Linked DNA regions of Homo sapiens: region 1 is linked to region 2. Evidence: fine-mapped expression QTL. Tissue or cell type: whole blood. Region 2 holds a variant in brackets; the other region holds the start of a gene. All regions are shown on one strand. Distances are from middle to middle.

What was found. PIP is the estimated chance that this variant, and not a neighbour inherited with it, causes the effect.
Region 1: it holds the start of SERINC5, and the variant in region 2 is fine-mapped to the expression of SERINC5 in whole blood (TOPMed, PIP above 0.99). The same link has a PIP of 0.9 or more in monocytes.

Annotation. Positions count from the first base shown.
Region 1 is chr5:80,254,649-80,257,334 of GRCh38, reverse strand. It overlaps SERINC5 (serine incorporator 5), which reads left to right and starts at 1,287. Exons shown (of 12, transcript NM_001174072.3): 1 at 1,287-1,439. The coding sequence starts at 1,413. RefSeq lists enhancers at 1-187, 188-1,121 and silencers at 975-1,414, 1,525-1,804.
Region 2 is chr5:80,125,717-80,128,402 of GRCh38, reverse strand. It overlaps a transcript of SERINC5 not described here. Among named protein-coding and RNA genes, the nearest start is that of THBS4-AS1, 43 kb to the right of the region's middle. The variant G/A (reference allele first, on the strand shown) is at 1,233.

The sequences.
Region 1 (2,686 bases), 130 kb before region 2:
CCTTGCGTCATGTGCCAGGGGATCAGACGAGTGGATTCCAGGCCCAGTTTTACTTCCTCAACTTTGCTGTGAGGCTTTGGGCAAGTTATTTAACCTCTCTGGGCTTCAGTTGCCTCACCGCTAAAATGGGTACGGTAATGCTTATTTGAAAGAGCAAAGGGATTGGCGCAAAAATCGCACTAACAGAAATATCTTCATTCCGGCAGGGCGCGGTGGCTCACGCCTGTAATCCCAGCACTTTGGGAGGCCGAGGCGGGCGGATCACCTGAGGTCAGGAGTTCGAGACCAGCCTGGCCAAGATGGTGAAACCCCGTCTCTACTAAAAATACAAAAAATTAGCCGGGCGTGGTGGCAGGCGCCTGTAATCCCAGCTACTCGGGAGGCAGAGGTTGCAGTGAGCCGAGATCGCGTCACTGCACTCCAGCCTGGGCGACAGAGTGAAGCTCCGTCTCAGAGAAAAAAAAGAAAAAAAAAAAAGAAATACCTTCATTCCTCTTGGGGAGGTGGCTGTGAGGACAGCAGATCTGAGTGGGAGAAAACCTAGAGACGGCCTCCCTGCCTTCTGTATGGAACAAGCAATTATTGGGCACCCTCTTTTTAGTGAGGAAGCAGGGACGGAAAATGAGTCCTTGGGCCAGCGCAGGAGGAGAGGCTGGAAAACATATCAATATTCAGGAAGGCACGGAAAGGGCTCTCAATGGATCTCTCACCAAGTGCCATCAGGGCAGAACAGTCAAGGGCCCAGGGATTCGAGGAAGCTTGGGAGGCGCGGAGAGCCCAAAAGTTGAAAGTTTTCTTGGCAGATGAGGGAAGGAAAGGGATTTCAGGAACAAGGATCTCGTGGGTGGGCTGTCCCAGTCGGCGCGCGGCAGAGCGCAGACCAGCACCCGGCGGTCTGGTCTGTGCAGGAAAGGCAGGAACCGCTTACTAAGGCTCCAACCTTTTAGAGGCAGCAACAAGCTCTTTCTCTGGATCCGAAGGCGGAGAGGCGCTGCGCTCTCATTTGGCGAGGGCCCGAGCGCGGCCAGACCGCGCACCAGACCCGGAGCGTGGGGCCCAAAGGCTGGCGGCCGACTCCGGAGCTCGGCGCCCCAACCGGGAAGTGATCGCAGCAGCCCACCCGCCTGACGCCAGCGGAAGTGCGAGCCCGGGTCGAGCCTGCTCCGCCGCCGGGCGCCCGGGAAGGGGCGGGCACGGGGCGGGGCTGGGGGCGGGCGAGGCGGGGCCGGCGGCGGGGCGGGGCTTGGCCGCAGTTGTTTTTACCCAGGCCTCGGCGCCTAGGCGCTTCGCCGAGGCTGATCTTCGTTCAAGTGTGAGCTGCGGCTGAGCCCAGCGCTCGAGGCGCGAGGCAGCCAGGAGGGCCCGTGCGGCGCGGGGAGCCAGCGAGCGCGCCTTCGGCATTGGCCGCCGCGATGTCAGCTCAGTGCTGTGCGGGCCAGGTGAGCGAGGCCGGGCGCAGCGCGGGGGTTGTCAGATCGGAGAACCGGGCCAGGAGTCCAGGCGTGGAGGACCTGCCTGGGTGCGCTCCCAGCTCCGCGGCCGAACGTAGGGCCCGGGTGGGTCGCTCGGGCTGGCCCCGCGGCGCTCAGCCGTCCGGGAAATCCTGTGCCCTGGGCGGGCGGGAAGGGGCAGGGGGAAGCCCGAGAGGCTACCCCGGGGTCTTCCCGTCCGGCCTCCGGGACTCCGCGTGGAGCGGGGCGTGCCGGGCTCGGGCGGAGGATCCCGACTGCTCCAGGGGCGTGTCGCCTCTTGCGCCGAGCACTGGTGAATAGCGCTGAGCTCCGTAGCCCTCTCCACTCTGCTTGTCGGATGAATCCAGGAAGAAAAGTGGGTTTAGGCACCGTCTCCTTTGCTATGCCCTGAATAAAACTCGGGTCAAACAACCCAGGCAGGTTGCGCTTGGCATCTCGTAGTCGAGCGTGGGCTCTGTACCTTTGAGAATGTCTCGAAGCCTGACTTCCAAACTACCGGGCGCAGGTCTGGGCGAAGGGAAAACTCAGCCCTGCTTCCTGAATTTCCCGACCCAACCCTGGCTCGGTACTAGCACGACTGCCTGGGTAGGGCTGGAACCTTCCTGCCTCTCTTTGCAAATAAACTTGTTCGAACCTGTTTTTTAACTCTCGCCTATTTAAACCTATGATGTCTTAAAACATTATGTCTCCTACCAGTTACTGCATCAGTGTAGAATTAGTACGTCTTAGCCCTGTAATGCTGGTTTCACTCCTTCCTGCAGAGTTAGAAAAAACGAAGTAGGTGAGTCTCTTGGATGTGGAGCTCTTTTCTCCCTTTACATGTGGATTATCAGCGTTTCGGTACAGAGTTTTAATGGAGTGTTTTCACGAACGAATCAGACTCTAGGGAGCATCCTGGTTCGGGGTGTTCTTGCTGACACTCAGCCTTTCCACAATCGAGGCCAGCTGTAAGTGATGGAGTGGTTAAACTGTGGGTTTCTGTAACCGGCGATTATACTGGCAGATAATCTGTCCTGTTTAGAGTGGCCACGTGGAGCTGTCTTGGTTTTTGAGGTCTAATACTGTGCTTGGCATACATTAAAGCTGGCCTTTTCAGAGTTGAGGAAATTGAGGCTTTTGACGACTGAGACGAAATGATTTTTTTTCCCTGTGTCAGGCAGAGAGAGAAAGAGAATGAGAATGGTCACCACCTTACCAGGTATTTGAGAACAAGG
Region 2 (2,686 bases):
TCAGCAGCTCAAGGACGTCAGGTCAAAGATTACTGTGGATTTCTGGTTTCCCCTTGTGGCCCCAGCAGCTGCTTTGCCAATCCATCTAATCTGCATTCCAGCCAGAAGACCCTGAGGGCACTGGGCTCCCTGGAGAAAAATTCATTGCATGTTTTACGGCAGGAAATATCAAGATGAGTCTGGAAATATCTTCTTATTGCCAGAAAACAAACATACTTTCAAAGACCCTTGGAAGACAAGCTAAGTTATGTCTAGTCATAAATTTTATCTAGAAATAAGTTTTGTAACCATTATAGTATTTTGTGTATATTTTTCTGCTTTTTAAGGTAAGTAAAGAGACTGATTCATTAGACTCAAAATATTAGTAAAAATTTATAAGATGTTGATAACTAAGTTTGAAATAATGTTCAAATGTTTAAATTGTTAAATCTTTAAATTTATAATTTATTAAATTTGTAAGGTTAAACTTTTTAAGTTCAGTATGTTTTCAGTGTTTATTAAGATTTTGCCTATAGAAATGTGAGTCTGCTTTGTTGTTTTTTTCCTTGAGAAATCAATTAAAATTAGATTGTAGTTTGAAATGTCTAAAACTTAATTCTGAAAGTTTGATAAATATTTGGGAGTACCTTATCAAATTTACAAGCCAGTTGGGCATTCATCAAAACCAAATAAAAGTAGATAATAAAATATTAACAAAACTGATTTATAAATTAACACAAGTTTAAAGTCTTCAAAATTAAGTTTTAAAACATATAATTTAAATATATAAAATATAAGTTGAAATTAAAGGGAGTATTTATTTCAATGCATAAAGGCTCTCTTCAGACATAAAGAAAACTCAGATGACATTTTGGAGGTAGGTGGTATCAGTCAGTGTCGGCTAAGTTATGCTGTGGTAACAAGCAACTCCAAAACCCTCAGTGGCTTACAATGACTAAAGTTCAGTTCTTGCTCACATTGTGGGCTACCGGTAGCTTTGCTCTAAGTTTTCCATCCTGGGACCAGCAGTCTGTATTTGGGATATTGCTGGTTTCATGGAAGAGAGAACGAACATAGTAGAACCATATGATGAATCAGAGCTTCTGCTTCGAAGTGGCACACATCACTTCTGTTATCATTGCATTGGTCAAAGCAAGTCTCATGGCCACTCTTGAGGTCAAGGAGATGAGAATATGTAATCCTCCCACAAGAAGGGACACCTCAAACCACATCTCTAAGGCTGATGCAATGAA[G/A]TGGGGAAGTATTATCTTCCCCAGGGTGGGGCAGCAAATATTTTGAGTAATAAAATCTACTGTAATGGGGAATAGGAGGTTTTTAAAAAATTCTTACAACTTAGTTTTTTCCCTGTCACATAGGCTGTCAGTATATCCTAACTTACAGAAGTGATTGTGATTGTGTCTGGGTGTTGGAATTATGGTGATTTTAATCTTCTTCTTTGAAAGTTTTTGATGATGAGTATATATTTATTTTGTAGACAAATTAACAATTTTTAATTAAAAATTTAAATTATACCAGGCTTGGTATCGCATGCCTGTAATCCTATCACTTTGGGAGGTCAAGGTGGGAAGATCACTTGAGCTTAGGAGTTTGAGGCCAGCCTGGGCAACATAGTGAGACCCTGTCTCCATTTTTATATAAACAAATAAGCAAAAATTTTGATGAAAAATTTTTTTGTAACCAAATTAAAATTTATGAATTTCATTTGTACAAAAAAGGCAGTGGATAACTAACTTGTTTTTAATATTGGAATGGTAGTATGTGCAGAACAGTGTTTTAGAAAAATACATCTCACAACATTGAAGAAGAAAATGTATGTTGGAGATTTTGTGTTTTAGATATATCTCAACCTGTCAGCTTTGAAAGAATGTGGCTATGAAATGGAGTGTGTTTGTTAAAGAAATAAGTAAATCAGTAAGTGAATGTTGGTTAGTTGGGTGGAGAAAGGCTTAGAAGCATCTAGCACTAAAAGATATATTCTTTTGTGGTTATCTGGCTGATGTCATGAAATTCTGACTTATACCACCAGGGAAGCTTACATTTCTCTTTGGCAGGGAACTTCAAATTTAGTACAGTTTGGACCTCACTGCATAGTCATAGTAAAAACTTTTGTACTTAATTGACTCTTCGTTTGCTTCTGGTTTTATAGTGGCCTTCCTGATGAACCAGCTTTTTATAATCCAAATTGGATCTGTGCCTACTTAATTGTTTCTGTCCCAATTCTACTTGGTGGTCAAGACTGAATCAGATTTTCGGTTCCTCCTTCTCCTCTCGTTTTGACTTTCCAGTGTATTCAACTGAATTTTCATCATAATGACTCCAAAGTACTCTTCTCTTCCTTTGTCTTGTGGTCACAAGAAAAATCACAAGATCACATTGATGGATGACTCATGAGCTCCTCATCTTTCTGATAGAGTCTCTGAACTGAACCAGCGTGAGTCTAGGTTTGCAGGAAGGCTTTTGATTCAGCCTTGTGATTCTCATGAATAGATGGCAATAGAATTAATTTCTCTCTCGATCTTGCTTTTCTTTTTCAACTAATAACTTTATTTACATCTATTTTCCTCCCTACCCAACCCACTGCATGTCCTTTTCTTGACCCAGGTGATGACGTTTCTTAAACCAGTTTGCTCTTCTCCGTATCCAAAGCTGCTCTCGTAGGTCACCATTATAACTCCACAGTTAATGC